3 linked regions of the Homo sapiens genome follow. The protein of the gene in region 1 interacts with the protein of each later gene in a pairwise test. Each region holds a gene or a part of one and is shown on either strand. Other genes may lie near its edges.

Region 1 (7,024 bases):
TTCTCTTGCCTCAGCCTCCCAAGTAGCTGGGATTACAGGCGCCTGCCACCACACCCGGCTAATTTTTGTATTTTTAGTAGAGGTGGGGTTTCACCACATTGGCCAGGCTGGTCTTGAACTCCTGACCTCAGGTGATCTGCCCGCCTCAGCCTCCCAAAGTGCTGGGATTATAGGTGTGACCCACCGCGCACAGCTATTTTTCTCTTCTATACTTCCTTCTTCAGGAAGAAACCTGGCTCCCACTATCCTTAATAGATTACTTATTTGGTCAATTCCCCTTATGTAACCAATTGCCCATTGTTGCCACTGCTGCCTCCTCCCCCATATCCTCTTAACTTCACTTGGAATCTGCCCTGCACCCCCACCCACGACTCCCATTGCCAGGCAGGCCCCCCCCAGACACATTTCTCTTTATACACAGGCTCTGGTACCCTATACCAAATTATACCTACTCACATACCCTGTGTGGATATTCTCTCCATGAGGAAACAACTTTTGTTAAACTGCCTCGTGTGGATATTCTCTCCATGAGGAGACAACTTTTGTTAAACTGCCTCGTGTGGACACCTTTGACCCAGCTTGGGATCTGACACCCTGCATTGGACTTCCCCACTACTGGATGACCTCTGCAACCTGCTGACATCACAAGCCAGTTCAAGCTCCTCTGTAGGTGCTCTCCTGACCCCACATTCAGCTCTAATATTTCAAAGCCAAGTTGACCCTCTGCATAGACACCTAGTGTGCTCTATTCTACCCAATACCTTTAGGATTGCATTGTTCAGGAAGGGAAGAGGAAGAACTATAAAAATGTCCATAGCATGATTTTTTTTTTTCATTTTTGAGACAGTGTCTGACTCTGCTGCCCAGACTGGAGTGTGATGATGTGATCATGGCTCACTGCAACCTGAATCTCCTGAGCTCAAGCCATCCTTCCACCTCAGCCTCTCAAGCAGCTGGGACCACAGGTGCGCACCACCACACATGGCTAATATTTTTAGTTTTTGTAAAGATAGGGTCTCACTATGTTTCCTAGGCTGGTTTCAAACTCCTGGCCTCAAGCAATCTTCCCACCTCAGCATCCCAAAGTGCTGGGATTGTAGGCATGAGCCACTGTGCTTGGCAGCATGATTTGCAGTATTCTCAAAATTGGAAATAATATGAAAGTAGAACAGAAGTTTGTGGTACAGAATACAGAGGAATACTTCATGGTAATAACAAAGAATAAATTACAGCTTCATTTAACATAAGATATAAGATAGACTCAAAACAATCCAAATTGAACGATTGAACGATTCTATACAAAGTTTAAAGAGACAGCCAGGTGTGGTAGCTCACTCCTGTAATCCCAACACTTTAGGAGGCCAGGTGGGTGGATCACTTGAAGCCAGGAGTTCGAGACTAGCCTGGCCAACATGGCAAAACTCTGTCTCTACTAAAAATACAAAAAATTAGCTGGGTGTTGTGGCACATGCCTGTAGTCCCAACTGCGTGGGAGGCTGAGGCCTATGAATTGCTTGAAACCAGGAGGCGGAGGGTGCAGTGAGCCGAGATCGCACCACAGCACTCCAGTCTGGGCAACAAAGTGAGAATCTGTCTCAAAAAAAAAAAAAAAAAAGACAAAATTAAACTCTAGTGCACAGATAGTAAACAAACCAAGGCCAGGTGTGTTGGTTCACACCTGCAATCCCAGCACTTCTTTAATGTTTTAAAGAAATCTTTACTCTTTTACTACATAGCTATATGATCTTCAGCAAGCTGATTTTTTTTTTTTTTTAATTACAATAGAGAAAAGGTCTCACTATGTTGCCCAATCAGGTCTCAAACTCCTGGGCTGAAGCAATCCTCCCTCCTTGGCCTCTCTCTTTTTTTTGAGACGGAGTCTTCCTCTGTCGTCCAGGCTGGAGTACAGTGGCGCAATCTCGGTTCACTGCAACCTCCGCCTCCCAGGTTCAAACGATTCTCGTGCCTCAGCCTCCCAAGTAGCTAGGACTACAGGGTGTGCCACCCTGCCCTACTAATTTTTGTATTTTTAGTAGAGACAGGGTTTCGTCATGTTAACCAGGCTAGTCTTGAACTCCTGACCTCAGGTGATCCTTGGCCTCGGCCCACCTTGGCCTCCCAAAGTGCTGGGATTACAGGCGTGAGCCACCACGTCCAGCCTGCGCTGCATTTTTATGGGCAAGAATCTTCTGCAATACTGTAAGTTTCCTATGACTTAAAGATTTGAGAAACAGTGCAAAGACAATGAAAGAAGCAGGCCCTCATAGAGTCACATAGCCAGGAAGGTTGGACTAGACAGAGCACTCAGTAATCGTCTTTTCTTTCTGTCCATTTCAAAGCCTTTCACGATTTTCCCTAAAAATGAAAATATGTGAGGGTGTTGGCGGTGGGGGTCCATAGTCTTCTTTTCCAAGCTTATAGGTTGTTTTCTCCATATTGAGAAACTGGTAGCTTGGGACCCTAGTCATTAAAAATATCCACCAGACATTCTGGAGTTTGTTTTTTATTGTTATAAATACGACATTCACAAATATCATCTAAAGCTCAGGTATGAGGCTGGACGCAGTGGCTCACGCCTATAATCCTGGCACTTTGAGAGGCCAAGGCAGGATCACCCGAGCTCAGGAGTTTGAGACCAGCCTGGGCAACACTGTCTCTAAAAAAAAAAAACAGAGAGAGAAAACAAATGAAGCCCAGGTATGATTAACATATTTTATATGTATGTTTTAAACACTCACAACTCACAAATCACCCCTAAAAATACTAATTTTCCATAAAGATTGCTGAGTTAGACAAACAAAATTTCGAAACAAACAAGATTACCATTTCTTTCTACCCAAATGAATTATCTATTCAAACAATATTTCATTTCTATTTGCTAAGGTAAGGCTGAGGGATGTATTGTAACGGTACAGGCTTTTTACGTGAAATGACGTTCTTTGATACCAAAAATACTAGGACACACTTGCCATATTGGCAAAGTTGTTTTTTTAATGCCTATTGTTGGCAAAAGCAGGGAATAGCCACTCTGTAAATGGACACCGCTGGTAAGAATGTAAAGTGGCACAAATTTTTCAAAGGGCAACTTGTTAATATGCAACAAAAAAATTTTAAATGTGCATACCAGCTGGGTGCAGTGACTCAGACCTGTAATCCCAGCACTTTGGGAGGCGAAGGCGGGTGGATCACTTGAGGTCAGGAGTTCAAGACCAGCCTGGCCAACATGGTAAAACCCGTCTCTACTAAAAATAAAAAAATTAGCTGCGTGGGGTGGTGCATCTGTAGTCCTAGCTACTTGGGAGGCTGAGACAGGAGAATTGCTTGAATCCCAGAGGCAGAGGTTGCAGTGAGCTGAAATCGTGCCTCTGCACTCTAGCCTGGGTGACACAGTGAGACTCCAGCTCAAAAAAAAAAAAAAAGAAAAGTACATACCAAAAAGAGAACATAAAAGATGATCATTTATCTAGAAAATACCTAAGAATCCAAACAATAGAGCAACTAGGCCAGGCACAGTGGCTCATGCCTATAATCCCAGCACTTTGGGAAACAGAGGTGGGAGGATCATTTGAGCCCAGGAGTTCAAGACAAGCCTGGGCAACATAGTGACACCCTGCCTGTACAAAAAATAAAATTGTGGCCAGGAGCGGTGGTTCACACTTGTAATATCCCAGCACTTTGGAAGGCCAAGGCAGATCACTTGATACCAGGAGTTCAAGACCAGCCTGGCCAATACAGCAAAACCCCAACTCCACTGAAAATACAAAAATTAGCCTGTAATCCCAGCTACTTGGGAGGCTGAGGCATGAGAATCACTTGAGCCTGGGAGGCAGAGGCTGCAAGGAACCGAGATCACGCCACTGTACTCCAGCCTGGGCCACAGAGCAAGACTCTGTCTCAAAAAAATATAAATAAAAAAATAAAATAAAATTGCTGAATGTAGTGGGTTGCAGCTGTAGTCTCAGTTACTCAGGAGGCTGTGGTGGGAGAATCATTTGAGCCAGGAGTTCAAGGCTGCAACGAGATATGATCATACAACTACACGCTAGCCTGTCTGACAAAGCAAAAGCCTGTCTTTAAAAAAAAAAAAAAAAAAGAGCTATTAGAACTAATAAATTAGTAAGGTCAGAGGACATAAGATCATTAGACACAAGACTACCAGCAACAACTGAAACTAAAAATTTTTTTTTTTTTGAGACGGAGTCTCACTCTGTCACCCAGGCTGGAGTGCAGTGGTGCAATATTGGCTCACTGCAAGCTCCATCTCCCGGGTTCATGCCATTCTCCTGCCTCAGCCTCCCGAGTAGCTGGGACTACAAGCGCCCGCCACCATGCCCGGCTAATTTTTTGTATTTATTATTTTTTTTTTCTGAGACAAGTCTCGCTCTGTCGCCCAGGCTGGAGTGCAGTGGTGCAATCTCGGCTTACTGCAAGCTCTGCCTCTCGGCTTCACGCTATTCTCCTGCCTCAGCCTACTGAGTAGCTGGGACTACAGGCACCCGCCACCATGCCCGGCTAATTTTTTGTATTTTTAGTAGAGATGGGGTTTCACTGTGTTAGCCAGGATAGTCTTGATCTTTTGACCTCGTGATCCGCCCGCCTCGGCCTCCCAAAGTGCTGGATTACAGGCGTGAGCCACCGCGCACGGCCTAATTTTTGTATTTTTAGTAGAGACAGGGTTTCACCGTGTTAGCCAGGATGGTCTCGATCTCCTGACCTTGTGATCCGCCCACCTCAGCCTCCCAAAGTGCTGGGATTACAGGCGTGAGCTACTGCGCCCAGCCTTTTGAAACTAAAATTTTTAAAAAACACTATTACAATACTTAGGGACAAATCTGACAAAAGATGTGCAAGACCTCTGAAAACTACAAAACACTGCTAAGAGAAATTAAAGATGACCTAAATAAATGGCGAGATATACATAAGCACGGATCAGAAAACTCAATACTGTTAGGATGTCAATTCTCCATAGGTTGATCTGTACACTCAATGCAATCCCAGCTGAAATCGCAGCAGCTTTTGGTAAGCTAATTTAAAATTTATCTGGAAATACAATCTAAAATAGTCAAAATAACTCTGAAAAAGAGCAAAATCAGAGGACTAACACGTGGATTCAAGACTTATTATGAAGCTACAGTAATCATGACACTACCATAGACTTTATAAATACTGTACATTAGGCTGCCCTAAATTTATAATTTTTTTAAATTTCAATAATAAATTAATCTTAGCTTACTACAATTTTACTTTATAACTTTTTTTTTTTTGAAACAGAGTCTTGCTCTGTCACCCAGGCTGGAGTGCAATGGTGTGATCTCGGCTCACTGCAACCTCCGCCTCCCAGGTTATAGTGATTCTCCTGCCTCAGCCTCCCAAGTAGCTGGAATTACAGGTGCCCGCCACGACACCTGGCTAATTTTTTGTATTTTTAGTAGATATGGGGTTTCACCATGTTGATCAAGCTGGTCTTGAACTCTGGACCTCAGGTCATCCACCCACCATGGGCCACCCAAAGTGCTGGGATTACAGGCATGAGCCACCGCACCCGGCCTACTTTATAACTTATAAATGTTTAAAACTTTTTGACTCTTTTGTAATAACCATTAACACACAAACACATTTATAGCTGTACAAAAATTTTTTCTTTCTTTATATCTTCATTCTATAAGCTGTTTTCTATTAAAATTTATTTTTCTTTTTAAACTTTTTTGTAAAAAACTAAGACACACACACATTAGCCTAGGTCTACACAGGGTCAGGATCATCAAGATGTCACTAGGCAACAGAAATTTTTTTAGCTCCATTATAATCTTATGGGACAACCATAGAATTAATATATGGGATCTGTTATGTGGTGCATGACAATATAGAGAGAGATCCAGTTATGGCCTGCATGGTTTGGTATTGTTCAACTTTTTTTTTTTTTTTGAGACAGACTCTCGGTCTGTCGCCAGGCTGGACTGCAGTGGCGAGATCTCGGCTCACTGCAACCTCCGTCTCCCGGGTTCAAGCAATTCTCCTGCCTAGCCTCCCGAGTAGTTGGGACTACAGGCGCATGCCACCACATCCAGCTAATTTTTGTAATTTTTGTAGAGATGGGGTTTCAACATGTTGGCCAGGATGGTCTCGATCTCTTGACCTTGTGATCCACCTGCCTCAGCCTCCCAAAGTGCTGGGATTACAGGCATGAGCCACCACGCCCCGGCCTTGTTCAACATTTTTATAAATGCCTTGTATGAGGACACAAATGTACATATTTATCAAACCTGCAGTTGACACAAAGCTGAGAGGGATACCTAATAACGATGGATGGCTGAATCAGGATCCAAAAGGTCTTGACAGGCTGCAACTCTGTGTCGAATCTAACAAGATGAAATTTAACAAGGACAAAGGTAAGTCTGACACTTAAGTCCAGAAAATCAATACAAGGCAGGGGAGGTCTGACTTGATGACAATTCAGGTAGAAAACAAGGTTTTTTAACTGACTGAAATCATAGCAAGGTTCAAAAACAAGGGAGTAAGAAAGAAATGGGGTTTAACTTTATAAATATTATTGTTTTTCAGCTCAACATAAACTTTTAGATAGATTTGAAAACACAACAGGCCACTTCAGGAGGTAAGTACACATTACTGGAAGTCTTCAAGCCAAGTTTGATGACGACTCTGGATGTTGAAGAAGGAGTAGTGGAATCTCATATAAGGTTTAATAGAAGAAATGACCCCAAATAATGCCTAGACTCCATAATTTACTTAATATAGGTAGATGTAAGTACAGTTTACAAGGTAAAAATAATTAAATCAATTATTTCATTCCAATTGATTTAGTAGACTGACTAGTTAAGTCTCCGAAAGATCTACTGAATGAGGAGTTCGTATTTAGACTTTTTTCCCCGTCTTCTTCTATTAGTCCAAAGACCTTTTTTTTTTTTTTTTTTTAAAGAACGATAAAGCCAGGTGCGGTGGCTCACACCTGTAATCCCAGCACTTTGGGAGGCTGAAGTGGGCAGATTACCTGAGGTCAGAAGTT
Region 2 (7,688 bases), on another chromosome or scaffold:
AAGTGCTAGGATTACAGGCATGAGCCATGGCACCTGGCCACCCTTACCAATTTTTAACACTCCTCTAAAACAAAGATACTTAGCCTTGGAGCTGAGTATAAAACCTCCTTAGGGCTGGGTGCAGTGGCTCACGCCTGTAATCCCAGCACTTTGGGAGGCCAAGGCGGGCGGATCACAAGGTCAGGAGATCGAGACCATCTTGGCTAACACGGTGAAACCCCATCTCTACTAAAAATACAAAGAATTAGCCGGGCGCGGTGGCGGGCGCCTGTAGTCCCAGCTACTCGGGAGGCTGAGGCAGGAGAATGGCGTGAACCTGGGAGGCGGAGCTTGCAGTGAGCCGAGATTGTGCCACTGCAATCTGGCCTGGGCTAAAGAGCGGGACTCCGTCTCAAAAAAAAAAAAAAAAAACCTCCTTAGTCCTAGGCTTTGTTAGAAGCCTAGTCACTGACTGCTCTTGTCCTCACTTTTTCTGCTGGATGATAGGGCAAAGGACCCATGTAATTAACACAACGCCCTAAGAACACTGATGAAAGAGAGAAGGAACTTCTGGAACTAGGGACAGATTAATTCTGTTAATTATTATAAGACCTTGCTTTGTCAAAGGAATGACTTTGGTATTTTGACAATGTCAGTGGGCGTGTCCAACTTGCTAGAATATGCACCTGGCGGGAGGGGAGCAAAAGTTCTGGGAGAGTAGGGCAGAAAAGATTTGGCTTTTGATTCTAAAATCCATTCTAAGGCTCACCCTAACTCCCCCCAGATAGGAGAAGCCTGATGTTTATTTTCAAGATAATCAGATTCTTCCCAGTAGCAATCTTTTATAAAAAGGAAGAATCATCTACCAGAGCGACACAATTGTCATCCCTCACGTCCACAGAATGTGAATCCCCCTCACCCAACCCCTGCCTACCTAGTCCCTCTGAGGGGGGACTCCTTCCCTAGCCAGTCTCCAGAGGGTACTGACCTTGCCATGCTTGTGGTACTTGTGGTGCTTTTGGTGCTTGTGCATCTTTTTATGAGCTTTCTTCATTTTCTTCTGCATCTTCTTGTCTACTATCACTGCTGGTCCAACCATGCCAGGAGCCAAGGGATTCACAGGAGGGATTCCAGGGGCAGGCGGTGGGTATGGAGGAGGGTAGGGACCCAACGGTTGGCATCCTGGATACCCTGGCTGTGGCACAGGATGAGGGGGCCCACCTGGGGGGAAAGCTGGATTGCCATGGGGAGCTCCTGGGGGAGGAGGACAGGGGCCTGGGGGAAAGGGTGGATTAATAGGTGGTGGGTGGGCAGGATTGGAACCTCCAGGGCACCCAATATTGGGGGGATATGGATTTGGCCCTGGCTGCCCTGGTGGAAGAAGCAGAGAATAAACATTAGAATTCCCCAGAGTCTCCAACAACAAACAACAAAAAGAAAGAGATTCTTTCTCACTCAATACTTAAAGGGAAACGGAAAGATGACAAAGAAGAATGGAGGGTAGGGGAGACAAACTTGAGTTGGGGAGAAAAGGGGGAATGTCCCTGGAAGGGCTAGGGAGAGGAGGGAGACAGTGAACTCTGAGGAAGACAAAAGCACTGGTCAGTCCAGGCGCGGTGGCTCACGCCTGTAATCCCAGCACTTTGGGAGGCCGAGGTGGACAGATCTCATGAGGCCATGAGTTTGAGACCAGCCTGGCCAAATTGTGAAACCCCCATCTCTACTAAAAATACAAAAAGTAGCCGGGCGTGATAGCATGCGTCTGTAATCTCAGCTACTCCAGAGGCTGAAACAGGAGAATCGCTTGAACCCAGGAGGCGGAGGTTGCAGTGAGCCTGGGCAACAGAGACTCCATCTCAAAAAATAAATAAATTAAATTAAATTAAAAAGCACTGGTCAGCTCTAGACTAAGGACTTTGCTTTTGCGGGTACAGCAGGTCGGGGGTAGGGGAGCTGATACAGAAACTTCCTGTTATAGAGCCCATCAGAAAAAGGGTTAGGGGTGGAACAGAACCCCCAAACACCTACCGGCATTGGGATTCCACATGTTTAGGTGTGTCCTCCAGCCTGAGGAGAAAGAAATGAGGCAAAAAAGATGACGGTCTAGAGGTAGGAAGTGGACTTAGCACCGGAGCCCAGCCCTAACGTCTTCCACCCCACAGTAGGCTCTCCTACCTGGAGAACTACCACAACTTCCACATAAGAAATGTCTCTTTTCTGGCTGGGCGCGGTGGCTCACGCCTGTAATCCCAGCACTTTGGGAGGCCGAGGCGGGTGGATCACGAGGTCAAGAGTTCGAGACCAGCCTGGCCAACATCGTGAAACCCCGTCTCTACTAAAAATCTAAAAATTAGCCGGGCGCGGTGGCGGGCACCTGTAATCCCAGTTATTCGGGAGGCTGAGTCAGGAAAATTGCTTGAACCCGGGAGGCAGAGGTTGCAGTGAGCCGAGACCGCGCCACTGCACTCTAGCCTGGGCGACGGAGCAAGACACCGTCTCAAAAAGAAAAGAAAAGAAAAGAAATGTCTCTTTCCACTTGTTTCTTCGCCCTCAATACCTACTTGGTTCCTAACACAGGAATCTAGTTCCCAGGGCCCCTCCACCCAGGTGGAAGCGTCTAACTCTTCGGAAGTAGGCAGTACCCGCGAGTCTCGGCCCCACCATCACTCATCTCCCTTTCCCTGGAACTGAGTACGGAGGCCTTTAACCACGCACAGAGTAAGAAAGGATCTCAAACAACTTTCTCTCTCCCTGGGGAGGACCCCACCTCAGGCTAAAAAAAGGATACGCCTCGAGGCGAAGTAAGAAGGAAGTTGCCCAAGAACCTCAAATACTTAAATATGTGGACACAGCCCCCTTCCTCCAAAAAAGAAAAAAGGCAAATGAAGATCCTAGCCCCAAGCTGCGAAGAGACTCTTGACCTAGCAAGGGGAAAAGGAAAAACCTATGGAATCCAGATACCCCATCACCTTTCCACCGCCGCCTGGGCTTGCTGCGTTCTCCTTCGCAGTCTCGGCTCTTCCTAGTCACCCAGACCCCGTGCTTCGGCACCCGCCTCTGCTACTGCCTAATTGGTAATTATGTGGCCGCTCGACTGATGATTAGACAACAAACTAATCAATCACTCTGGTCCGACTGAGGAGGAAACGGTTGCTCTAGGGGCGGAGCGGAGCCCTTTACGGCTAGGCCAGTACCGAGAAGCCGGAAATCTCCTGGGGGCGGGGCTAGGCGGAGAGCGCTGGAGGGGGCGGGGCCAGCTGCTGGGCAAAGTCCTAGAGACACCGAGAAGAAACTCTTCCCTTGCTCTCTTACCTCATGGTTCACTGGGTGCAATACCTTGTAAAATGAATACACTATGGTAAGTGTTGTAATACAGATATAGACAGAGTTCTCGGCAAGGGCAGAAGAGCTGCTGAGTCCCAGCCCCAAGCCTCAATGTTCCCGGCTCCGTCTTACACTCGCAAGGGAAGCAAACAAACATTCTTGCGGAAGATACAGAGATTTCATAATCTCTCCCAGGATTCCCTCTCTCAATTGCATAGCTCCGCCATCTGTCAAGTAGCCTAAACCAGAAACCAAGGAGGGCGTCCGTGATCCCTCTGCCTCCTTCACCTCCCTTACCCCAAATTATCAGTTTTGTCTCTCAAATATATCTGGAATCTCTCCACTTCTCTCTGTCTTCCCTGCTCCAAACCTCCCATCATCTGTCGCCTGGATTCATCTCTCCCCTGAATTGCTACAATGGCCTCCCTACAATGGCCTCCCTTTTTTTTTTTTTTTTTTTTTTTGAGACGGAGTCTCGCTCTGTCACGAGGCTGGAGTGCAGTGGTGCGACCTCGGCTCACTGCAACCTCCGCTTCCCGGGTTCAAGCGATAATCCTGCCTCAGCCTCCGAAGTAGCTGGGACTACAGACGCGGCTAATTTTTCTATTTTTTAGTAGAGATGGGATTTCACCATGTTGGCCAGGATGGTCTCGCTCTCTTGACTTCGTGATCTGCCCGCCTCGGCCTCCCAAAGTGCTGGGATTATAGGCGTGAGCCACCGTACCCAGCCTTTAAAAAAAAAAAAAAAATACAAGTGGCCGGGCGCAGTGGCTCACGCCTGTAATCCCAGCACTTTGGGAGGCCGAGGCAGGCGGATCACAAGGTCAGGAGTTCGAGACCAGCCTGGCCAATATGGTAAAACCCCGTTTCTACTAAAAATACAAAAATTAGCCGGGCGTGGTGACATGTGCCTGTAATCCCAGCCACTTGAGAGGCTGAGGCAGGAGAATCGCTTGAACCCGGGAGGTTGCAGTGAACCGAGATCACGCCATAGCACTCCAGCCTGGGCAACAGAGCGAGACTCCATCTCAAAAAAAAAAAGAAAGAAAGAAAGAAAGAAAGTGAGCTAGGCATGGTGGCACATACCTGTAATCCCAGCTAGTGGGAAGGCTGAGGCATGAGAATCGCTTGAACCTGGGAGGGAGAGGGTGCAGTGAGCCAAGATCATGCCACTGCACTCCAGACTAAGCAACAGAGCAGGACTCTGTTTCAAAAAAAAAAAAAAAAAAAAGTGGGATACAAAAAAATTTAAGACAATAAATTTTATGCCAAATATGTCATATTAAACTAAAGCATTTGAAATATTTTAAACTTTTTTTCTTTTAATTTTTATTTTTAGTGCTGGGGTACATGTGCATGATGTGCAGGTTTGTTACATAGTTAAATGTGTGCCATGCTGGTTTGCTGCACAAATTTTGCTGCACCAATAAACCCATCAGCTAGGTATTAAGCCCAGCATGCATTAGCTATTTTTCCTAATATTCTCACTCCCCTGACCCTACCCCCCAACAGGCCCCAGTGTGTGTTGTTCCCCTCCTTGTGTCCATGTGTTCTTACTGTGTAGCTCCCACTTGAGTGAGAACATGTTCCTGCATGAGTTTGCTGAGGTTAATGGCTTCCAGCTTCATCCATGTCCCTATAAAGGACATGATCTCATTCCTTTTTATGGCTACATAGTATTCCATGGTATATATGTACCACAGTTTTTCAGTCTATTGTTGATGGGCATTTGGATTAATTCCATGTCTTTGCTATTGTGAATAGTGCTACAGTGAACATACACATGCATGTATGTTTGTAATAGAATGATTTATATTCCTTTGGGTATACACCCAGTAATGAGATTGCTGGGTCAAATGGTATTTCTGGTTCTAGATCTTTGAGGAATCGCCACATCGTCTTCCACAATGGTTGAACTAATTTACACTCCCACCAACAGTGTAAAAATGTTCCTATTTCTCCACAACCTTGCCAGCATCTGGATTTTGGTTTTGGGTTTTTTTTTTTTTTTGAGACTGAGTCTTGCTCTGTCGCCCAGGCTGAAGTGCAGTGGCAGGATCTCAGCTCACTGCAACCTCTGCCTCCCGGGTTCAAGCGATTCTCCTGCCTCAGCCTCCCGAGTAGCTAGAATTACAGGTGCCTGCCGCCACACCTGCCATATATATATACATATATATATTTGTATTTTTAGTAGAAACAGGGTTTCACCATGCTGGCCAGGGTGGTTTCAAACTCCTGACCTCAAGTGATTCACTCACCCTTGGCCTCCCAAAGTGCTAGGGTTACAGGCATGAGCCACCAGGCCTGGCCTGTTATTTCTTGACTTTTTAATAATCACCATTCTGACTGGCATGAGATAGTATCTCATTATGGTTTTGATTTACATTTCTCTAATGTTCAGTGATGTTGAGCTTTTTTTCATGTTTGTTGGCTGCATATCTTCTTTTTTTTTTTTTTTTTTTTTTTTTTTGAGACGGAGTCTCTCTCTGTCGCCCGGGCTGGAGTGCAGTGGCGGGATCTCGGCTCACTGCAAGCTCCGCCTCCCGGGTTCACGCCATTCTCCTGCCTCAGCCTCCCAAGTAGCTGGGACTACAGGCGCCCGCCACTACGCCCGGCTAATTTTTTGTATTTTTTAGTAGAGACGGGGTTTCACCGTTTTAGCCGGGATGGTCTCGATCTCCTGACCTCGTGATCCGCCCGCCTCGGCCTCCCAAAGTGCTGGGATTACAGGCGTGAGCCACCGCGCCCGGCCGGCTGCATATCTTCTTTTGAGAAATGTCTGTTAATGTCCTTTGCCCCCCCCTTTTTTTTTTGAGACGGAGTCTCGCCCTGGCCCCGTTGTCCAGGCTGGAGTGCAGTGGCACGATCTTGGCTCACTGCAAGCTCCGCCTCCCAGGTTCGCACCATTCTCCTGCCTCAGCCTCCCGAGTAGCTGGGACTACAGGCACCCGCCACCGTGCCTGGCTAATTTTTTATATTTTTAGTAGAGACGGGGTTTCACCCTCTTAGCCAGGATGATCTTGATCTCCTGACCTCGTGATCCGCCCGCCTCGGCCCCCCAAAGTGCTGGGATTATAGGCGTGAGCCACCGCACCTGGCCTTTTGCCCACTTTTTTTTTTTTTTTCCTATCTCTTTTTTTTTTTTTTTTTTAATTGATCATTCTTGGGTGTTTCTCGCAGAGGGGGATTTGGCAGGGTCATAGGACAATAGTGGAGGGAAGGTCAGCAGATAAACAAGTGAACAAAGGTCTCTGGTTTTCCTAGGCAGAGGACCCTGCGGCCTTCCCCAGTGTTTGTGTCCCTGGGTACTTGAGATTAGGGAGTGGTGATGACTCTTAACGAGCATGCTGCCTTCAAGCATCTGTTTAACAAAACACATCTTGCACCGCCCTTAATCCATTTAACCCTGAGTGGACACAGCACATGATTCAGAGAGCACCGGGTTGGGGGTAAGGTCATAGATCAACAGCATCCCAAGGCAGAAGAATTTTTCTTAGTACAGAACAAAATGGAGTCTCCTATGTCTACTTCTTTCTACACAGACACAGCAACAATCTGATTTCTGTATCTTTTCCCCACATTTCCCCCTTTTCTATTCGACAAAACCGCCATCGTCATCATGGCCCGTTCTCAATCAGCTGTTGGGTACACCTCCCGGACGGGGTGGCGGCAGGGCAGAGGGGCTCCTCACTTCCCAGAAGGGGCGGCCGGGCAGAGGCACCCCCCACCTCCCGGACGGGGCGGCTGGCCGGGCGGGGGCCGCCCCCCACCTCCCTCCCGGACGGGGAGGCTGGCCGTTGCCCACTTTTTAATGGGGTTGTTTTTTTCTCGTAAATTTGTTTGAGTTTCTTCTAGATTCTGGATATTAGACACTTTGGCAGATCACAAAAATTTTCTCCCATTCTGTAGGTTGCCTGTTTGTTCTGATGATAGTTTCTTTTGCTGTGCAGAAGCTCTTTAGTTTAATTAGATCACATTTGTCAATTTTTGCTTTTATTGCGATTGCTTTTGGTGATCCCATCATGAAATCTTTGCCCATGCCTATGTCCTGAGTGGTATTGCCTAGACAGTGTTCTTTTATTCTGAAATAATTTTAGACTCACAAGAAGTTGTAAAATTTACCCAGCTTCCCCCAGTGATAGTATCTTACATAACAAGACTATCTTTTGACTGAGTGGGGTGGCTCATGCCTGTAATCCCAGCACTTTGGGAGGCTGAGACTGGTGGATTCCCTTGAGCTCAGGAGTTCGAGACCATCCTGGCCAACATGGTGAAATCTTGTCTCTACAAAAAATAGAAAAATTAGCTGGGCATGGTTGTGTGCGCCCATAATCCCAGCTACTTACGAGGCTGGGGTGGTAGGATCACTGGAGCCTGGGAGACAG
Region 3 (7,024 bases), on another chromosome or scaffold:
CATTCCTGTGTATTACTGAATCCAGTTAAGGATACAGAAGGTGTTATCTTCCTGCCAAACTGGTATTGTTATTCACACAACATATTCAGCCCACTAGTCATTCCTCCCTTGATGAATCTGCAATGCTTAAAAACCTTCTGAAGTCTCAAAAAGAAATGAGTATGTGGGTGAGACTGATGGTAGTAAATTATACATTGTGGAATGATTTCCCTCTTTTTTTAAATTAGAAACTCAAATCAACCTCAGAGTTCCTCACATTAAATCATCTGCTTAAATCCTTCCAATAGATGTCTATCTCAGAAGAAAAGTAAAATTCCAGTGGCCTTAGATGCTCTAAGTAACCCGCCCTCCACCTCCCGCCCTGACTCAGCTGCTATATCTCTCCTCCGTACTCACTCCATTCCTACTCTACGTGAATCCTGCCACTCCTCGTTAGTCTGAAATCCTCCTTAGTCTGAAAATGGGGATCCAGTGTCAAACTAATAAATCACAGATAGCTATGCCTCTCTTTGTCCTGGACAAAGTTATATCCAAATGATAGTAATTGAGCCTTGAAATAAAAATTATGAACAAATTTTTTATTTAAAAACTGAAAGTAAATTATAAATGCCAGTGGGAAGATTAAATCAAACATGATTTGGCTAAAATTTACTGCATTTGCCCCATATTATAATAGAAGTAAAATTAGATGCCTTGAAAGAATAGAATGGTCATATCTATACATAATTTGAGATTGAAATAGTTTCAGATTTAAGTCAAATTGACATGAAGAAAAACAAAATTTTACCAACTAAGACATATTTAAAGCTACTGAAGAAAAGTAATTATGAAATAGGGAATACACTTCAGTTCATCTAGGAAATCTGAAATTCACTGTCAAAGTACCCCACTTAATTGAATCAATTTCAAAATACCATTTTAGGTATGAGCATTTCCATATACCTGATTTATCATGGTCTTAAAATGTTGCAACATAAATACATTAAAATTATTACTTCAGCAGTATAAGACTACATTATTAATGTTAGTCTATGTTAACATTTTATAACTTAAAATTTTATAAGCGACACATTGACTTTAATCAGAGGAAAGCATCTCTCAGTTCTAACTTTGACTTGCTGGAGACAAGGAATGTTTCTAAGCAGATATATTTATCATATGTATCCTTTTTTATATTCAACTAGATCCAACATTCAGCTGTAACCAAATATTACTTTAAATTTTACTTCAGGAAGTTTGAAAAATACTTATTTTTCTTGATACTTACTTCTCTTTCTGCTTTCTCTTTTTCATATTGGCATTCTTTTTCTTTCGAATGATTCAGTTCATTGACCAACATTTTATTGTCTTCTTCTAGTAAAAGACGGTGCTTTCTGCACTCAGCTTGAAGGTTTTGTACTCTAGCATCACATCTGGCTTGAATATTAAGTATTGCTTTTTCTTGATTGTCAGCTTTGTTGCGAGCATCATCCAGTTGCTGTTGAAGCAACATATTTTGTTTTTTTAGTTGACAAAATCTTTCCTGTTTTTCTATGCATTTTTCCATTGTATTGTATCCACTTTTGTACATTTTTTCAATGTCCTTCATTTGACTCTGTTTTTGCTTTAGCTCACTTTGCACGTGTTCAAAAACCAAAGCCTTTTCTTTCAGAGCCTCTCCTGTGTAATGGAGCTCAGTTTTGAGGACTCTGGACTTACTCTCAGCTTTAGAAAGTTGCAGAGAAAGAATCAGAACATGAGAATTCAAATTTTCCTGTAAGTGACGACATTTATCTACTGTGCCCTGGAAAGCAAGCTCTTGGTCTCTTTTTGATGAGTGACTTTGATCATGATCACATCGAGCAGCATTCAGTCTACAACGGTATGATTGCATTTCTGTTTCCAGTCTTTGCCTGCTCTCTCTTTGCTTCTCCAGTTTGGAACGGAGCGTTGTGTTTTCATCTGTCAGAGCAGCAAGCTGTCCACTATAACAGGCTATCGTTTTTGCTAATGTTTCCCCATTCCGTTTTAGAGCCTTTTGAAGGTCTTCATGCTTTCTTTTCACAATTTCAAAGTCTTTTAAGTATTTCTTTTCCAGGTTTTGGTTTTTTATTGTGTCTTTTTCCAGCCTGAGCCTGGCAATTTCATCTTGCATCAAGCGGTTTTCATGCAGCAGGTCTTCTTTTTCATCAGTTTCAGAAACCTAAGTAAAACAAAGCAAACTTGTAACTAGTATCCAATAGGATAACATATTGTGATTGCTTCTGAAATTAAATAATAACCCGTACATTTATACAATGAGAGGTTGCCATAACTGGATATCTAACTGGGAAAAAAGAAGTTAAGTCAAAACCTCAAACCTCATACAGCATAAATTCCCCAAAGTTCAAAAGTTTATTTGAAGACAGTGAATCCATGAAAGCAAAAAAGAAGCCACTAGATAATTTTTTTAAATTTCAGGATAAAAAAAGGCTTTTACTGAATTACAACAAATTGCAAGGCATAAAGAATTAATAACTATGACCACATTAAAAAATTGGGTTTACACTCTAACATCTAAACTATACCTCTCCCTATAGTGAGAGCCTTAGCTTGGCAGATATTTGGACAGATGAATGACATTTTCCAAATTCTTTAAGTTCCCTTTTTCTAAAATATTGTATAGATATTCTACTTTTCTAATATTGTTATGGTCAGTTTTAAGAATGACATTTATTGATAAATGATAAAGCTAGGCATTATACTAAGCACTTTTACGTGCACAAATCAATGAACTCATTTAGTTATAATTCTATAGCAAAAGGTTAAAAATATAAGCAAGCTGCAGGATTTTTCCCAGCTTTTCTGACTCTATTCCTAGTGCTCTTCCACCAAATCAGTAACTTCTGTGAGGTAGATATATACATACAAAAATAATCTTTTATTTCAAGACACCAAAAGTCAAGAAAATTAGATCTATAAAACTCTTCTTAGAAAATCATGACATTATTTGCTATTGTGATAACTTTTATTCCTTTTCCATAACATTTGAAATGTAATTAACATGAAATAGGGGAAATATGCTGAACTATGTCACTAGGAACAAAATACTTACAATATCATTAAGTATATATTGTAGAATAGCATTGTTTTCAAAAGGCCTTTGAACTAAAATAAAATATTTCAAGATTTATTATAAATAATTATAGCTATAAATGCCATGATTCATTTTTAAGATGAAATAAAATTTGGGGATTGTTCAGGCCTAAATAATATATGTTAAATGAAAGAGATGGTATAAGTAATATTAATAAGAGTAGAAATATGAAGTTTTACCAAACATTAATTTACCTGATTTGAATTATTTCCTCCTGTCTTCAATTCCACCTCTGCTGATTTGAGAGCCGGTTTAATTGGTTTTGTCACATCAGCTTCTATCCTATATTGCTCTTCTGTTATTCTTAACTTTTCCCTAACTTTTTGGTGCAACTCTTCAACATTTCTTCTTTTCTTTTTTTCTTGCTGTATGGCAAATCTGTAAATATACTTATCTTAGAATTTATCTTATCAGTGAGGACTAAGCTCTAATTTTTTATCTTGCCCAAATTCCTACCTAAGGGGTCCAGGGAGTCGTGCCCTACAAACCATGGATTCTCATCAGATGGGTTTTATTTGACCCTGTATATTGTGACTTGCTTTTCAATCTGACTCTGGCATAACCTTACGAGACAAGGAAGAAAATATTTAATCCAAAATATATTTCCTTGCCATGCCTTGAAATTGCCCTGCAAAGTCTCTTGTGGGAAAAATCCACATTCTATAGAGAACCCCCTTTCCCCTTTGTTTTCCTTCCTTTCTATGCAGATCCAGGGGATATTCAGCTGAGAGCCAGGCACCCTTTTGGGTCCGATAAGAAACATTTTACAATCTGCTCTCTCTGAAGTCTGCTGAGAGATTCCTCTGCACAGTAAAACTTGGTCCCCACAATCATTTATCTTAACCTGAACATTTCTTTCCATTAATCCCAGGTCTTCAAATAAACTCAAGCAATTGTCAACCAGAAAATGTTTAAATTTACCTACAGCCTGGAAGCCCCAGCTTTGAGTTGGCCTGCCTTTCTGAACCAAATCAATGTATTTCTTACATGTATTTGATTGCTGTCTCATGCTTCTCTAAAATGTATAAAACCAAGCTGCACCCCGACCACTTCGGGCACATGTTCTCAGGACCTCCTGAGGGCTGTGTCGGGGGCCACGGTCACTCATATTTGGCTCAGAATAAATGTCTTCAAATATCTTACAGAGTTTGACTCTCTTTGTTGATATTAGAAAATAAAACATTCATATGTTGGTTTATTATCCTAATAAAGTTTCTATGTTCTTAAATACTATTTTTCTTTCTAGTTCTCATGTTTTTAATTTCTCACCTCAATCTCATCCAAAGGGCATGTATAAGTTGAAATGTATTGATAAAAGAACATCCTGCATAAGTTTCTATTACTAGTAACTCTAGCAAATATTATGAAAAAGGACGTTGAAAATTATTCAGTAAAGTTACAAGATAAAAATTATCTTTTCTTCACAGTAATTACTCCTCAATTAGGATGAATCATTTAGAGTTAATTAACATAAAGTTACTTTTTATAAACAAGTTGGTACATTCACTAGAAATACATTTTCATCTTCATGAAACATTCATTGCAAGTATCCCTAAACATAATTTACATTGCAAGATAGCATTTTCGATGTCTTTATGAAACATATATCAGCAGATTACTGTAATCCAAGACTAGGTTAAGAATGTAATATGTTACCCTACACTTTTTAAGATTGTTTTTTGGGTAACACTTTCAGTCTATCCTGCTGATTAGTATGTACTTTATAACCAATTGTAAAATCTGTTTTGGAACAACACAAGATCTAATATTTAATTAAACAATAAAGAATAATACATGTCTTCAGCATAAAACTGAATTAATTTTATCTACATAGCAGAGAGATGTTGAATAAGCTAATCAGTAATCACTTTACATTTTACTTTTTATTCCCTGCATATTAAGAATAAAACTGGATACATTTTTTTTTTTTTTTTTTTGAGAGGGAGTCTCCTACTATCACTGGGCTGGAGTGCACTGGTGCAATCTCTGCTCACTGCAACCTCTGCCTCCCAGTTTCATGTGATTCTCCTGCCTCAGCCTCCTGCGTAGCTGGGATTACAGGTACAACCACCATACCTGGCTAATTTTTTGTATTTTTAGTAGAGATAGCATTTCACTGTGTTGGGCAGACTGGTCTCGAACTCCTGACCTCGTGATCTGCCCACCTCGGCCTACCAAAGTGCTGGGATTACAGGCATGAGCCACTGCACCCGGCTGATAATTTTTAAAATAATTATTCTGGGTAAAGAAAAATATCTGTTTTATACTCTGTTGGTTGAATTATAAATTAATATGAACATCCTTAAGAACAATTTAGAAATATTGATCACAGATCTAAAACAGATCTAAAAAAGTTTCTATACTTTAACCAGAAGAATTTATCCAATGTAAATAATTAGAAATGTAGAAAACTATGTGTATATAAAAGATGTTCCTTGTAGCATTATTACAAAAACTTTTTAAAACCTGAAATTCAATTCATCAATTAAATAATGAGATTTCCAAAAGGTAAAATTCTATACAGCCATTAAAACTATGATTTAAAAGAATATGCATTTAATTATTAGAGAAGTATTCACAATTAAGAACTTGTGATATTATATCCAATAATTTCACACTCCATAAGATTAAGAAGCTTTCTTCCCTGTTAAATCCTAGAAGGAAAGTTCGCAATTACAAAACTTCTCCTTATACGTCTTTAATATAAAACAAACAGTTCAAACATTTATTTAAAACTAGGTCATACCTCAAACTACAGAGTTCTTTTTCCAATTCAAGTATTTCATGCTTTAACTGCGATTTTATTTCTTCTTTTTCAGATATTCTCTTTTGTAGTACACTAGCCTTATTTTTCAGTTTTCGAATTTTTACTCTAAGTTGCTCACAGTGGTTATCTTTAAGTTTTATTAATCTTTTCCATAAACAAAATGTATTTTTAATTTTCAATAGGTGAACACAATCTGTAACCAGGAAAAAACAAACTAGAGATAAAATACATGAGTAGATTTTTGGATATAAAGGACTGTGCATTTTTAACATGTATTCATTCATACGTTGAACAAGTATGTACATATTGAGTGCCTACAAGGTGGAAGATATTATAGTAAGGTCTGCAGATAAGACAACACCTCTGCTATTGTTTTAGCTTAAAGTATAGTGAAGAACCAAGATAAAAAGGTGACAGTTATAAACTCAGATAGGTCCTGTAAAAAAAAAAAAAAAAAAAAAACATAGTTATGTGATTGCATAAGATAATTTGATCTATACTTCACCCAGGGAAGATTTCCCTGAGGAAGAGATGCTACACTGAGAAATGAAGGATGAGAAAGAAGCAGTTAAGCAAAGAAGAAAGCAAAGCACTCTGGCTAGTTTGCAGCATGTGCTGTGCTGAAGCTCTGCTGCAATCTGTTACTAGCTCTGATGGAGTAACAGATACTGATTTTTCATCTTATCTGAATGAATAAAAAACAAAACAGACACAATACATTAAACTGATTTTCAACACAGTGGACTTCAGGCAATGAAGATGGTAGGTGATCACTGAAAGACAGAAAACAAATACAGCAGGCCTTACAAATATCCCAGCTCTTTTGACAGAGTTTTGACGGAGGTTCGAGGCCATCACAAAGGGAGAAAATCTGACATAGAGCTGGGGTGATGACGCTGAGAGGCCAGTAAAACCAAAGCAGATAGAGATCACAGGACAGAAAACTGGAGAGAAAAAAGCAGTACAGGAAACAAATCCTGGAGATGTGCAGAGATTCCCTCTTGGGTATTTAGTGGAGTAATGAAAAGTGCTTGTGTACTAGGAAACTTCCTAAGAACAATGAAAAATAAAATAAAAAAAAACAACAGTTAAAGAACATTAGCAGAAACGATGTCTGGGGTTCACACAATGACTGGAAGAGG

The links. The genes of interacting proteins can lie anywhere in the genome.
Region 2: the proteins of ZCCHC10 (region 1) and PRR13 interact in binary tests that used the Homo sapiens proteins (3 or more experiments, as listed by UniProt).
Region 3: the proteins of ZCCHC10 (region 1) and ANKRD36B interact in binary tests that used the Homo sapiens proteins (3 or more experiments, as listed by UniProt).

Annotation. Positions count from the first base shown.
Region 1 is NC_000005.10:133,016,548-133,023,571, forward strand, and holds part of ZCCHC10 (zinc finger CCHC domain-containing protein 10), read right to left. Parts: intron 6,360-7,024; coding exon 6,294-6,359; coding exon of another isoform or gene 6,264-6,293; intron 1-6,263.
Region 2 is NC_000012.12:53,437,053-53,444,740, reverse strand, and holds the start of PRR13 (proline-rich protein 13), read right to left. Parts: upstream 3,008-7,688; 5' UTR 2,949-3,007; intron 2,047-2,948; 5' UTR 2,027-2,046; coding exon 2,008-2,026; intron 1,351-2,007; coding exon 968-1,350; intron 1-967. UniProt on the Homo sapiens protein: Negatively regulates TSP1 expression at the level of transcription. This down-regulation was shown to reduce taxane-induced apoptosis.
Region 3 is NC_000002.12:97,509,871-97,516,894, forward strand, and holds part of ANKRD36B (ankyrin repeat domain-containing protein 36B), read right to left. Parts: exon of another isoform or gene 6,082-7,024; intron 6,076-6,081; coding exon 5,862-6,075; intron 3,494-5,861; coding exon 3,310-3,493; intron 2,183-3,309; coding exon 1,268-2,182; intron 1-1,267.